Homo sapiens: one gene and its partner. Each later gene encodes a partner of the first gene's protein in a complex. Each region holds a gene or a part of one and is shown on either strand. Other genes may lie near its edges.

Region 1 (7,686 bases):
ACTTTAGCAGAACACCTGAAACCTGTTAAGTATTCCGTAACTGTTCCCTTTGATATTTAAAGGGCATCTATTAGACCCATATTAAGTATTTTCTCAATGCTCCTAGCCAGTTTTATTCCATTGCAGTCCCAAGCGATCCCCTTCCTTACACAAGCCAGACAACCACGCCCCTTGTCTTTTTCACGAGTTAATAAGCAATATTCAACTCTCTCAGCGCTACTCTCCTGTTAGGGACGCCAGGAAACTTCCAGCTCCGCTTTTGCTACGTTCTCCCACTGGATTCGACAAGATTACTGTGAAACAGTCTCTACAAGGCAAGTTAAGTTTGCCCGATAAAGTTCAGAGAATGATCCAGAAAGCCTCATGGGTGAGGGTGGTCAGTACCCTAACCACGCCCACCCCTCTCTCCTCTCTACTGAGAGGCGACTCCAAATTCGCAACCACTTTGTTTTACGAGCGCCTCCCACCTCCGCGCATGCGCCTTACGCCTTCCACAATATCACACCATTGCCCGTTCGCACCTCGTACGCATGCGCCAATTCTATCGCCTCAGTTCCTGTTACTAATTCCTTGTGCCCTCAGCGGCCAAAGCTCACGACCCTCGCTATTGCTCCCGCGCCAGCACTAACCGATACTCAAACTCCTCGTCGTCGTATTTGTCCGAATAGTAAATTTGTTTGTGCGACATGATCGCTCGGTTTGCTAGCCTTCAGCCCCGCGCCGCCAACCTCCAAGCAACTCCCAACAGCACGCGCTCCCACCCACTTTGGCCTCGCTTTCAAACACGCCGCCCGCACTTCCTATTGGTCCGTTTGGCTCGAGGCGGGACACCTCTACTTTCAAGCCTCCGATTGGCTTAGATTTACTTCTCTTCGGATCCTTATTGGAGGGCAGTTCTCACGCTTCTCAAGAACGAGCGTGGGTCAAAAGTAGGCGTCTTATTGGCCACCACTGCCTTTGTGCGCGATCTCGCGCTGCCATTGGCTAACTCGGGAAAGTGGGAAGCGTGAAGGAGGGACCCTGAGGTAGAGGGTCAGGGGTTAGTGAGGCCGGAAGTGAGTGTAATAAAGTTTCTCCAGGGAGGCAGGGCCCGGGGAGAAAGTTGGAGCGGTAACCTAAGCTGGCAGTGGCGTGATCCGGCACCAAATCGGCCCGCGGTGCGGTGCGGAGACTCCATGAGGCCCTGGTGAGTCTTGACTTTTTTCTCCTTAGGTGACTCACTCTTTCACCCCGGAACCCCTCTCCCGGGACCCCACTTCCGGTCTTCATTTATAAGTCCCGCCCCTGAGACCCCTCTCCCCGGAAGTCCCACCTCCCAACTTCAGGGGGCTCCCCCGAACCCCGACTTGATTTTTATTTTTTGTCTCCGACCCCACCCTGTCGCCCAGTTTTTCTGGAAGTCCCCACCCCCCGACACGTTCCAAGCCCTACTACGAGAAACCCTTCGTTACTCCTTCCATTCTCCGAAACTCCGCCTCCTAGCAACGATCCTCGGCTAACTCCTGTCAAAAGGCCTATCTCCCAAAAGGGCAAAACCCTGCTCTTCAAAGAACGATTCGAATTTGTTGAAGCTCCGCCCCTCCGAAGCCACGCCCCCTCCGTAATCCACGTCTGACTGTCCAGAAAGCCTCCCCGCCCAGAAGTCTGAAGTTCGCGTCCTTAGGGGACCACGCCCCCTTAGGAGCTTTATCTTTGTGGGACCTGGGTCATCAGCTGAAAAGCCTTGTCGTCAATCCCTGAAACTCCACCTGCTTATATTTTCCTGTCCTTTCTCTTTTTGGGCCTTGGGATCAGTTTTCCGAGCACTCTCGTGCTCCCCCAGGTGGGAAGTCAAAGTTCCCATCTCTGGCTGTAAGGAGTGAGATTAAAGGCAGCCGTTTTCCGTTTTCCTTTCTATCTTTTTTTTTTTTTTTTTTTTTTTTAAGACGGAGTTTCGCTCTTATCGTCCAGGCTGGAGTGCAATGGTGCGATCTCGGCTCACTGCAACCTCCGCCTCCTGAGTTCAAGTGATTCTCCTGCCTCAGCCTCCTGAGTAGCTGGGATTACAGGCGCCCACCACCACGCCCGGCTAATTTTTGTATTTTTAGTAGAGACGGGGTTTCCCCATGTTGGCTAGGCTAGCCTCGAACTCCTGACCTCAGGTGCTCCACCCTTATCAGCCTCCTTAAGTGTTAGGATTACAGGCGTTAGCCACTGCGCCCGTCCCCGTTTTCCTCTTTCTTAACCTCCTCCAAGGGTAGAACTATTTGAAAGGGCTGAACGTGGGGTTTGGCACGAGAGGGAGAGAGAGACTTGCCCTCAGACTCCCAGCCTCACTTCCTGGCTTTCCCTTCCCAGGACCAACCTCATCCCAGAAGTAGCTCTAGGCCTTCCTAGACATAAGTGGATAAGACCATGGATTTGTTGGTGTGTGGCATGTGGGTGTGACATGAGCAAAAGTTTTCTACTACCAGAAGAACGGTAGTTTGGAGTGGGGGTAGATAATAGTGCTCTTTTTGTTGTTTGATTTTTTTTTTTTTAAGGGACAGTTCAGTCGCTACTTCTCTGTCTCTTCCCCTCCCCCTAACCAGAGTTCTTGTCTGGGCATTCCTCCTGGCCCCGTTTGCCCAGCCTTCCCTGCTGGAAACATTCCTGAGGCTTTCGCCATTTCCTGCCACTTCCCGCCCCTGTCCCCTCCTCCCAGTTGGGCTGCGAAGCCACACACAGCTTTTCCCCTACACCCAATCACCTGGACTTCCAGTAGGCAATCTCCTTTCTCCCTATGTAAATTTCAAGAGTCATACGTCTTTCTTTTCTTCCGAACGCCCACACCCGTTGGTCCTTCCCTGGCTCTGGATACTGTAGGCTCCCACAGAACATCATCTCTACAGATGAGGGACATCCTAGTGTGTGTTTGTGTGTTTTGGGGGTGTGAGGCTATGGTGGAATCCTTTCCTCATTCTCTCTATGCCCGAGAGCTGGCTGGAAATGAAGTGATAAAATTCCTTCTCAGGATTGGCTGGCAGAGTGACAAAGCTCTTCTGGAATGAGCACTAAGGGGAGATGTAAGAGTTAAGCACAGCATCTAACACACTTCAAGTGTTAATGTTGTTAATCAGGATAATTATCTATCTATATTTTAATTCTCTGAAGTAAATCTAAGGGTAATTCCAAGGTGAGCTGGGGGGAATACGTATTTTTTTTTTTTTGAGACGGAGTTTTGCTCTTGTCACCTAGGCTGGAGTGCAATGGCTCGATCTCGGCTCACTGCAACCTCCGCCTCCTGGGTTCGAGCGATTCTCCTGCCTCAGCCTCCTGAGCTGGGATTACAGGTGCCCGCCACCACGCCCAGCTAATTTTTGTATTTTTAGTAGAGACAGGGTTTCACCATGTTGACCAGGCTGGTCTCGAACTCCTGACTTCAGGTGATCCACCCGCCTCAGCCTCCCAAAGTGCTGGTATCACAGGTGTGAGCCACCGCGCCCGGTAGGAATACGTATCTTTGTTTTTTTTTTTTTGGTCACTTTCCAGCTTTGCCTGTGGCATTCTCCGGAAGAGCAGTGGCAGGAAGCCGTGGGTGGCAGGAATGGGTTTGGGACTGTTCCCTGTGTCCAGCTTCAACCCATCTTCTCCTGACACCCCTTTCTCCTGTACTTATTTTTCTCCTGTCCTTATTGACGCAGATGTGTCTTCTGATCTCTCTGTCCCTTCCTGGCCTGTAGTTTCTACTTCTCTTGGAGAACTGTTTCTTCCACCTCCTCCAGCCAGGCTCCTTCCCTGGTGTGAAGGATGCTGTGCTCTTTGGTGGGGCTTAGGGCCCTGTAAGAGGAGGGATGTGAATTGGGGTGGTTTGGAGTGGGAGTGGGGACCTGATTGCCTCATTCTCACCCTTGACAGTGTGCTGTGTTAACAAGCCCTGTGGAAAGGGGAGACAGGACAGTGCTTGGCTATGAGCCATCGGTCTTGGTGTGGTAGATGGCATACGTAGAGAACAAGCCGTGACCAGCATGTCCTCTTGTTCCCTTCTTGCCTGGTAGCTTCCTGATGTATCATCCAGGTTGAACTTTATTCCCCTTTTTTCACCAGCTTTGCTCTTCCTCTTGGCCCTGCTCTGCATCCATTGGGACCACTTACTTCCCATCCCCACTTCGCTAGCTCCAGTCCACAGCTGCTGTAGCAGAGGATGCTAATGGCCCAGGCTTACTGTATGGGGTAGCGGTTGGGGGTGGCCTGGGCTGGGGCCAGCCAGCTTTCGGGCATAGAGAGGGTGGGGGAATTCGAGTGTCCAACCAGGACAGGAAGGGAAATGCTGAGCTCTGAGATCTCCTCCCTTTTCCACCCCCAGCTGCCTCTGTTTCCTCCCTCATTCCCCTGTACTCCTGCCTGGCTTCCTGCCCCCTTTGGCCTGCGTGTGTCCGGTTTTGAGTGACCCAGACCTCCTATCTCCTTCCTTTCCGTCCCACTCTTCCATCCTTCCCTCCCACCCCCACTTTACTTCTCCCCAGATTACTAGTTGTTTGTATAGGGCAGGGGAGAGGGGCTTGGATAGCCCTACCCCCTGCTCCAGTTCGAGGTTGGGGCGGGGTGGGGGCTCAGCCCCTCTGAGCCTGTGAGTCAGCACTGTCCTCACGATTGGTCTCTCCCCTTAGCTCCCCGCCCCTGGGGAGGAGCCAGAAGCGCTGGGTCCAGCCTGTTCTCTTCTCAGCCAGAGAAGAGGCTCCACGTTGGGCGGGGATGGGGCCTGAAACTGTCTGGGTCTGAGCTGGGGAGCGGAAGCCACTTGTCCCTCTCCCTCCCCAGGACTTCTGTGACTCCTGGGCCACAGAGGTCCAACCAGGCTAAGGGCCTGGGGATACCCCCTGCCTGGCCCCCTTGCCCAAACTGGCAGGGGGGCCAGGCTGGGCAGCAGCCCCTCTTTCACCTCAACTATGGATCTCCTGCCCCCCAAGCCCAAGTACAATCCACTCCGGAATGAGTCTCTGTCATCGCTGGAGGAAGGGGCTTCTGGGTCCACCCCCCCGGAGGAGCTGCCTTCCCCATCAGCTTCATCCCTGGGGCCCATCCTGCCTCCTCTGCCTGGGGACGATAGTCCCACTACCCTGTGCTCCTTCTTCCCCCGGATGAGCAACCTGAGGCTGGCCAACCCGGCTGGGGGGCGCCCAGGGTCTAAGGGGGAGCCAGGAAGGGCAGCTGATGATGGGGAGGGGATCGTAGGGGCAGCCATGCCAGACTCAGGCCCCCTACCCCTCCTCCAGGACATGAACAAGCTGAGTGGAGGCGGCGGGCGCAGGACTCGGGTGGAAGGGGGCCAGCTTGGGGGCGAGGAGTGGACCCGCCACGGGAGCTTTGTCAATAAGCCCACGCGGGGCTGGCTGCATCCCAACGACAAAGTCATGGGACCCGGGGTTTCCTACTTGGTTCGGGTGAGTGAACATCCTCCTCTCCATTCCCCCGCAGACCCCCTCCAGTTCTAATGCTCACTCCAGCTTGGCCGGAATCTCTTTTTTCCTGCTGTTCCCCAACAACCCCGTTTCAGTGTCCTATTTCCTAAACCTTTCTCATCCCTTCCCCGATTCTGTAGCCCCTTCCCTTCCAGCTTTGCCTGGGCCCCCTTCCTTCTTTTCACTCCCCCACCCCCACCCTGGCATGCTTAGCACAATGCCCAGCATGGCAGAAGCTCTTAATAAGTGTTGGAATGAATGACTTCTTGATCTTTCCTCCATTCTCCTCCCGCTTTCTGGAGTTGTCACTCCATCCCAGCCAATGCCTGTCGGTCCCCTCCAAACTCTCTCCCCAGTGTGTGAGGTCCTTCTAGCCTGCCTTTTCTTTTTCTCCTCATTCCCTGTTGTCTTTCACCTTGGTTGTGGGATGTAGCCACGGGAAGTGGGCAGAACTTCTTCCTCTTTACTTCCCTTAGGGACCATATGGGTAAAGTCCTAGGGCCCTTTGTGAAGGGGCTGGGGTGGGGGAGCCGCTGACCTGCTGTCCTCTTCTCCCTCCCCTTAGTACATGGGTTGTGTGGAGGTCCTCCAGTCAATGCGTGCCCTGGACTTCAACACCCGGACTCAGGTCACCAGGTTAGTGGGGAGGGAGTGGATTGTGGGAGTCCTGGGATTAGTGAGGCCATGGGAAACAGAGGAGGGGAGTGGGTCACTTGGGTGCTGCTGCTGGGGGCTGATCTTTGCGTAGTAAAGGGGATTGAGAGAAAGCTGAGGTAGTGATTCCGCCTCTTACTGAAAGGAGGCCCCTTTGGCCCGGATCCTCCTTACCTATCCAGCCTTGGGAGTTGTGGGGAAGGTGGCAGAAGCAGCTGGCAGGTGGAGCTGGAGTAGAAAAGGGGGGTAGATGGAAGGTTGCTGCTGCCTTTGGGAAGGGAATGGGACATTTGGTAGCTGGAAGGGGGTGGGGCTATACCCATTGAGGCCCTAACCCAATCAGCCAGGAAGTGGCCTCTCAGTGTCATCAAATATTAAAGGCCCTTAATTCAATCCACCATGACAAAGAGCCTGGAGTGCCCTGGGAGTCTGGCCTGGCTTTCCCCTCCCCCAGCCCTGTGGCAGCCCCAGTTGAGTGGGAGGCAGGCAGGCAGGCGCTGGGTCTGAGTACCCCTCTTTCCCCAGGGAGGCCATCAGTCTGGTGTGTGAGGCTGTGCCGGGTGCTAAGGGGGCGACAAGGAGGAGAAAGGTACTTGGGGTCCTTGGGGATAGGGATGCTGCTGGGAAATGTGGAGGGGCAGTGGGGAGGCAAGTGTGGGGCATGTGGGGAGAGGGCCAGGAGGCAAAAGTGTGGTTTGCCTGTGCTGGGAACCCTCACCTTCTGAGACCCTGGGCCCTACCTTAGCCCTGTAGCCGCCCGCTCAGCTCTATCCTGGGGAGGAGTAACCTGAAATTTGCTGGAATGCCAATCACTCTCACCGTCTCCACCAGCAGCCTCAACCTCATGGCCGCAGACTGCAAACAGGTTGGTGAAGGTGGGCAGACGGACCAGAAACACTGATGGGGGTGCTAAGGGGAGATCTAGTTAGGAGGCCAAAATCTAGGAAGAGGGCTTGAGAGCAGGAGACCAGTAGGGAAGGAGGAAATGAGGATATGGGATAAGGAACCCAGAGAATGAGACTGGGGCACCAGGGTTCTGGGCCCTGAGGCTGCCTGACACATGGCATTCCCTTCCTTCTTCATCCCCTGCCCTAATTCTCAGATCATCGCCAACCACCACATGCAATCTATCTCATTTGCATCCGGCGGGGATCCGGTGAGTTGGGGAACAGAGCAAAGGCGGTGGGAGAAGAGCAAGGGGCTAGGGATTGGGAAGACATTGATTAGAGAAGTGGGGGTGCTAGGATTGTGGGGATATCTGAAAAGGACTGGGTTTTAGGGGTCAGGAGTAAAGTAGAACTGTAAAATTTTTTGACCTTCCTCCCCAGGACACAGCCGAGTATGTCGCCTATGTTGCCAAAGACCCTGTGAATCAGAGAGGTGAGGCATGGTGGGGAGCACTGGGTGGGTCTGGCTGTTTGAGGAGGTGAGTAGGACCTTTGGTCATCTGTACCCACTCTAAGTAGATCTCAGTGGGGGTTCCTGCAGAGGAAGATGAGGGCCCCTGTCTGTGCCTCCTCCCAGTGGGCTCAGCTCACTGACAGCCTCTGCTGTGCCCTCAGCCTGCCACATTCTGGAGTGTCCCGAAGGGCTTGCCCAGGATGTCATCAGC
Region 2 (7,029 bases), on another chromosome or scaffold:
GTCTCCCTGTTTGGCAAATGGGCTAGCTTGTGGATCTGGAGTGTTGTGTCAATGGAGCCTAAGGCTGTTTGGAGAACCTAGAAAGAAAATTCATCAGCTTCTCAGTCTTGGTAACAAATAAATAGAAGGCAAGAGAGAATGGGAGGGAAATGACGTCAAAAGTAGAAAGAAATTTATGGATAAGGAAACCGAGAAATTACGATTACAGAAGGATCGATTCCATTGTTGGCATTATTGTCTTCATCAAGGCCGTGCATCCTGCAGGGTGAAAACAGAAGAAATGAAGTGCTAAGGAATATAAAAGAGTGGAAATGACATTTGTTGGACACTTTTATAGTCTGTAAATGGATAACTTGTGCCTCTGTTTGACACTTTGGCTTAAAACTGAATGGCTTATTTATTTAATCGGTGGAGACTGTGCAAATCCATGTATTAGAATAACTTACAATGCTGGTTGCTGAGCCTGAAAAGGTGTGAATTTACTTTTTAGTTTTCAAAGTTACGGCCAGGTGGGGTGACTCACTTCTGTAATCCCAGCACTTTGGGAGGCCAAGATGGGAGGATCACTTGAGCCTAGGAGTTTGAGTTCAGCCTAGGCAACATAGTGAGACCCCCATCTCTACAAAAATTACAAAAAAATTAGCTATGTGTGATGGCGCATGCCTGCAGTCCCCAGGACTACAGGGAGGCTGAGGTGGGAGGATTGATTGAGCCTGGGAGGTTGAGGCTGCAGTGAGCCATGATTGTGCCACTGCACTCCAACCTGGACAATGGAGCACAACTGTCTCTAAAAAAAAAAGAAAAAGTTTTGAAGTTATATGATGTGGCATTCAACCTTCTATCTGGGTTGTAAGGTTCCCAGGCAAGACATCAGCTATTAATTAAACACACTATTTTGACTGGGGGCAGAAATGCTCCTGTCTTGCATGATCTATCAATTTATTGATGGTTCAGGGACCTTAACTTACTGATGGACTTTTGCTTTATTGTTACTTTAGGAAAGTGTTAAGTATAAGGTGATAGTAATAGCAACTCGAGCCTCGCTCTGGTCTAAGTGCTTTGTGTGTATGAACTTACTTAAGTCTCACAACTCTTATGGGATATGTGCTATCCTGGCCCCTCTTTCATAGGTTGGATTGAGAGGCTTGCCAAAGGTCCCATGACTAGTACAGAGGGCACCTGGGATCTAAGCTCAGGGAGTCTTGTTTCCAGCTCAATCTCTTATCTTCTAGGTTAGCTGGATGGGGGTAATGTTGATGGGGAGCTTCAGATAATTTGAGGATTTTGGAGTCTGAACTGTCTGGGTAACTGTGGTTGTATGGAACTGGCCTTGGCATACCACTATCTATATTTGTCCCCTCTCTTTCCTCCCAATTCCCATGCTGCCTTTTCCATGAAGGTGTCTGCTTAAATTATCTCCCATCCCTCCCCAGTATGAAGACCACCTGCTTGCCCATGTTTGGCTACAAACACGTGCTGACGCTAACTGACCAGGTGACCCGCTTCAATGAGGAAGTGAAGAAGCAGAGTGTGTCACGGAACCGAGATGCCCCAGAGGGTGGCTTTGATGCCATCATGCAGGCTACAGTCTGTGATGTGAGTTTGGAGGACTTGGAGTGCCAGGTGTGGCTGGCATAGATCAAAATGGGAAAGGAAGTGACTGAACTCTGGGGATTTCTGGTGTAAAATGAGATGAGAACTAAGCAGGGCTTCCTGCAGTTATGAGTAGTAAGTTGCTCCTGATATTCAGCCTTGGCTTAGATCCACTCCCTGGCCTGAGCTGACATTTCTTTGAACCTCAGTGGTCTCAGATGTTCCCAGGGGAGAGCATCTTCCCATCTTCAGAGTTACTTCAGAGTTAAGGCTGAGTTAACTTAACCTCAGCAAAGTAGGCAGATGTTCAGATGAGATTTCTTCTAGCCCAGATCAGCTCTGTGGATGCACGTCAGTTTCTAGATGAGCAATGTGACTGTCATTAGAAGAGTTAAGTTTGGAGTTTAAGAAGATCTCATTCAGCTGCTTGAACTAATCAGCTATGAGACTGTTTTCTGAAGAGAATGAAACTCCTGAACTGGAAAGCTTCAGCTTCGGTTCCAAGGACTGGGACTGAGACCCTTGTTTTGAAGAAAAATAAGCTGTCCAGCCCTTTAGCCAGGGAGCACCTTGGGTCTCTGTTCTCTACCAGTGACATGGCTGAATTTGTTTTGTCTCCTCTGCCTTTGTTTTTTGTTTTCTTTTAACAGGAAAAGATTGGCTGGAGGAATGATGCATCCCACTTGCTGGTGTTTACCACTGATGCCAAGACTCATATAGCATTGGACGGAAGGCTGGCAGGCATTGTCCAGCCTAATGACGGGCAGTGTCATGTTGGTAGTGACAATCATTACTCTGCCTCCACTACCATGGTGAGATCTCTGGCACCACCTATGGTTTCTATTCATGATTGTGAGGGTTGCCCTAATCTAGGCAGAGTCTGTGTGAATATGAAAATGGCAGCCCCTCCTTCTGGGCAGGGTGCAGGGCTCGGTTCCAGCTTGCCCCTATCCCTTACCAACTGGACACCGTCATCCAGCATACAACCTATATAACCATTAGAGATGTCCCTGATTGTGGTGTTATCACTGCCTTCACTGTCACCAGCATAGCAGCAGCATCATGGGATCCAGAATGGACCCAAAGGATTTTTACAACCCAGCTGGAAAGCAGGTCTTCCTCTCCACTCTGATTAGCCCTTTCTTGGAATACCATACTAACTTGTGGTTATTGGAAGAAGACAGAGGAAAAAAAAGAGAAAGATTGGCCAGGCATATGATGGCTCATGCCTGTAATCTCAGCACTTTGGGAGGCTGAGGTGGGAGGATCACGTGAGTCCAGGAGTTTGAAACCAGCTTGGGAAATATAGTGAGACCCTGCCTCTACAAGAAAATGCAAAAATTCGTTGAGTGTTGTGGTTTGTGCCTATGGTCCCAGCTACTTGTGGGGCTGAGGCAGAAAGATCTCTTGAGCCCAGTAGTCTGAGGCTGCAGTGAGCTGTGATCTTGCCACTACACTCCAGCCTGAGTGACAGAGCAAGAACCACCCCTGCTTTTTTTTTTTTTTTTTTTTTTTTTTTTTTTTGATACAGAGTCTTGCTTTGTTGCCCAGCTGGAGTGCAGTAGTGCAATCTTGGCTCACAAGCTTCACCACCTCAGTCTCCTGAATAGCTGGGACCACAGGCATGCACTACCATGCCCAGCTAATTTTTGAAAACAGGGTCTTTCTATGTTGCCCAGGCTGGTCTCAAACTCCTTGGCTTAAGCAATCTGCCCTCTTAAGCCTCCCAAAGTGCTGGGATTACAGGTGTGAGCCATTGCTCCTAGTGGAGACCCCTTCTCTTAGAAAGAGAGAGAGAGAGAGAGAGAGAGAGAGAGAGAGAAAGAGGGGAAAGAACATAAAAGGCATGGTGAACAGGTCCTACGAGGAAAGATTAAAGGGCCAGAGTCATTTAGCTTGAAAGAAAGAAGGCTAAAGGATGATTTAGCTTATACATGAGAAAACTTCTTATAAGTTGTTTTATATGGCCATAGAAGGTTAAACAAGAGGAAAATATTTAAATTGAATCAGGAGAAATTACTATAAGCCATAAGAGAAATGTGCTGTAATGCTCTAGGTATCTGGGGCAGGTGTGAACTCTTCGTCTCCTAAGGACAATATAGCAACTTCCTCATCTAGGTGACTTAAAGGTGTACCTGTGTAAAGGCAGGAGACTGAGCTGAGGATCTAATGAGCTCCCTGCAAGGTCTAGGATCCCATGGACATGTTCACGATTCACCACCGCCCCCGCACAGTGTCCTTGAGTTCCTTGGTGTCAGCCATATCCAAGTCAAGCACTACCAGACAATGAGTCAGCAACATTTGACCCCTAATCTATGCAAGGCACTGGGCCAGGGGCTGAGGGAGGTAACAAGACTATGTATGGTTCTATCCTTGGGGAGTTTTTGGTCTACTTGAGGAGAAAGGATATATATATTTACAATAACACAAGATGCATGATTAGTGCCAAATGGGTGTGGCACAGCCAATGTGGCTATACGTATCCAAGGGAGGAAAGGTCATCATGAGCTGGGATGGCCAAGGAAGTCTCCTGAAGAAGGTGGGGGCTAAGCTAGGCCCTAAGAAAGGAGGAGGATTACCAACAAGAAGGCCACTCCAGGTGGGAGACAGTGGGCCAGATCACTGCTGAGTGGAAGAGGGAGAGAGGTGAGCAATATTTGGAAAGAAAGACTGAGACCACACGGTGGAGGATCACGAGGGCCAGGCCAAGGCATTTGTCAGTAGTTCCAAAACAGAGGCCTAACCCAGTCCCTTGTGCACGGAAGCAGCTCCATAGTATTAGTGCATTAAATTCAAGCAGGAAGAAAGAGGTGCTTAGTTTTGACACCACTGGCCTGTACCTCTTCGTCTATCCCTGGAGTTCACAAGTAGACTTCTGTGCTACTTACCCTTCTTATCTCACTGTCACCCCCCTTTTTTTTTTAGAGACAGAGTCTTGCTCTGCTGCCCAGGCTGGAGTGCAGTGGTGCAATCATAGCTCACTGTAACCTCCAACTCCTGGGCTGAAGTGATCCTGCCTCAGCCTCCCCAGTAGCTAGGACTATAGGCACTTACCACCACATCTGGCAAATAAAAAAAATTTTTTTGTAGAGATGGGGTCTTGCTATGTTGCCCAGGCTCTTGTCTCACTTTCAGCATGAAGTGAAATGGTTTAAGCACCACCACACTCTGAGCCACAGCCCAAGCAAGATAAGTTCTAAGCTTTAGACCCTAGAGATGTACATGAGACGTCATTAACCTCTACATCCTTCATTTTCCTAGGATTATCCCTCTTTGGGGCTGATGACTGAGAAGCTATCCCAGAAAAACATCAATTTGATCTTTGCAGTGACTGAAAATGTAGTCAATCTCTATCAGGTGACTGTGCCTTCGGGCTTCCTGGAGTGGGCCCTGTGATGGTGGGTGCCCCAGGTAGCCAGCCTGTGCTAGCATTGGATACAGTCCCCAATCAGGAAAGAGTCTCCCCTAATCCACTCCCCAGGAGCTAAAGATTGCACTCTGGGCCTTTTTCCTGCAATCTTGAACTTACTAGGTATGTGTTGGTGTTTGTGGTGGTGGAGGGGAGGTGGTGAGGGGTGTGAGAGGTTTCCTCTACTTTTGCTCAGGGCTGAAAAACTGCTAGATATATTCCTGGCAGTGACAATTGAAATATCCCGTACCTTCCTCCAATCTTCATCTCAGGACTCTCAGTGGGATTTGGGGAGGGCTTTTGGAGACCACCAGCTTCCTTTGGTAAGCTCTGGACATCTTTGTTTTCCTTTCTAGAACTATAGTGAGCTCATCCCAGGGACCACAGTTGGGGTTCTGTCCATGGATTCCAGCAATGTCCTCCAGCTCATTGTTGATGCTTATGGGGTAAGTGTCTTGTGCTGGGAATAGTCCCGCGGAGAGTCCACCTCATTTGGCTTACACAGCAGGGCTCAGATTTGTGAGTCCCAGTTGCCAGTCTACCACACGGTCTTACTGCCTTCTCCGTGTGCTCCCAGAGCCCAGGCAATGGCCCGCTCTAGAAGGGATGCAGCCTTCTGAGAAGGAAGGAAGGAAGGAAGGAAGAGAGAAAGAAGGAAAGAAGATGGGGATGGGGATGGTGATTAGATGGAGAAGGAGCAGAGCCCTGGAATTGTGGGGGCAGAGTGAGGGAAAACTGGGCTCCAATAACAGGGAAAAGAGAGAGCTGAGACATGGGGAAGGTGAGGTTGATGAAACATTAGGTAGAAAATGCCACTTTCCAAGGTGACCAGTATTGGCACTCCCCTTTTGCAACATCTGTGAGGCCTGCAGGAGGGTGTAGCTGGTACATTTTACCCAGACTCACCTAGACGCAAGTGGAGATGGAAAGAGGGAGCAGGTTCCTGCGCAGGAAACAGAGTCCTAGGGGTGCTCCGGCAGCTTCCAGGTCAAACCTTGGCCTCTGGCACTGCTGGGGTGAGTCCAGAGCTACTTGCCAGATTTGGCTTGGGATGGAACTGGCTCTTGCCATTTCCCGTTTCCTTTCAGTTCAATTTCTTGTCTTCTTGTGCCCCTTTCTGCTCAGAAAATCCGTTCTAAAGTAGAGCTGGAAGTGCGTGACCTCCCTGAAGAGTTGTCTCTATCCTTCAATGCCACCTGCCTCAACAATGAGGTCATCCCTGGCCTCAAGTCTTGTATGGGACTCAAGATTGGAGACACGGTGAGGTGGGCTGGGCAGGGCCTTTGTCCTGGAGCATCTGTGGGCACCCAACCCCCTTTCTTCCTTTTGTAGTGACTAAAAATGGCCCCCTTCCACCAGAAAAAAAATATGGGCAAGAAAAATACGTTTCCTGAAAGTCATTCTAAGTTAGATGTAATGGATCCACCAATCTTTTCCTCTGAGGCTTCTGTTGCGTAAGCCATTTCTGTTACGTGAACTTCACTCTCAGGAATTTGAAAAACTTACAATTTGGTTACCTTTGTTTGTGTATGCACAGTTGATTGCAAAGGAAAATATTTCTTTACCTTCAGTCCCTCACCAGTCGCCAGCCTTTCCAAGGTAATTAATACCTTTCTTTTGTAAAACGACACAAGAAAGTAAAATCTAAAATGTAAAACACTCCAGTCTCTCCACGACTTTCCTTATTGGTCGTTTCTCCTCCGCTTCTGCCTAAGGGGAGAGGGGTTGGTGGGAGGGGAGGAAGGAGGGGAAGAAAATAGATCTTTGGATACGCTGATCCTTTCTATTGACCTATCTGTCTCTCAGGCACTTGTGCAAACATCCCATGTTAGAAATATTGTCCTGAAACATGCTTTATTGCATAAGCTATGAAATGTGTGGGAACTGAAGTAGATCCTGAGCTTATGATTGACCACCATGTGGGATTGTGTGGTGCAAAATAGTGCTTTGTGCATCTTGCTGATAATTATAATCAGGCCAAAGCAGGGTGTTTATATGATCACAGGTTCTGTTCAGTTTGAGCTGGT

The links. The genes of interacting proteins can lie anywhere in the genome.
Region 2: the proteins of SHC1 (region 1) and ITGB3 are in contact, whole or in part, in an NMR structure (PDB 2L1C), measured with the Homo sapiens proteins. Residues at the interface, in NP_892113.4 of Homo sapiens: Ser175, Met176, Arg177, Asn182, Arg184, Thr185, Gln186, Thr188, Arg189, Glu190, Ser193, Leu194, Arg208, Arg209, Lys210, Arg214, Pro215, Leu216, Ser217, Ile219, Met257, Gln258, Ser259, Ile260, Ser261, Phe262, Ala263, Ser264, Gly265, Pro268; in NP_000203.2 of Homo sapiens: Trp765, Asp766, Thr767, Ala768, Pro771, Leu772, Tyr773, Lys774, Glu775, Ala776, Thr777, Ser778, Thr779, Phe780, Thr781, Asn782, Ile783, Thr784, Tyr785, Arg786, Gly787, Thr788.

The regions. Positions count from the first base shown.
Region 1 is NC_000001.11:154,967,748-154,975,433, reverse strand, and holds the start of SHC1 (SHC-transforming protein 1), read left to right. Parts: upstream 1-4,686; 5' UTR 4,687-4,907; coding exon 4,908-5,402; intron 5,403-5,985; coding exon 5,986-6,056; intron 6,057-6,599; coding exon 6,600-6,663; intron 6,664-6,819; coding exon 6,820-6,939; intron 6,940-7,176; coding exon 7,177-7,230; intron 7,231-7,402; coding exon 7,403-7,454; intron 7,455-7,636; coding exon 7,637-7,686. Other genes in the region: CKS1B (cyclin-dependent kinases regulatory subunit 1), read right to left, coding at 630-688. UniProt on the Homo sapiens protein: Signaling adapter that couples activated growth factor receptors to signaling pathways. Participates in a signaling cascade initiated by activated KIT and KITLG/SCF.
Region 2 is NC_000017.11:47,284,827-47,291,855, forward strand, and holds part of ITGB3 (integrin beta-3 precursor), read left to right. Parts: intron 1-1,433; coding exon 1,434-1,596; intron 1,597-2,243; coding exon 2,244-2,405; intron 2,406-4,854; coding exon 4,855-4,950; intron 4,951-5,358; coding exon 5,359-5,448; intron 5,449-6,127; coding exon 6,128-6,262; intron 6,263-7,029. UniProt on the Homo sapiens protein: Integrin alpha-V/beta-3 (ITGAV:ITGB3) is a receptor for cytotactin, fibronectin, laminin, matrix metalloproteinase-2, osteopontin, osteomodulin, prothrombin, thrombospondin, vitronectin and von Willebrand factor.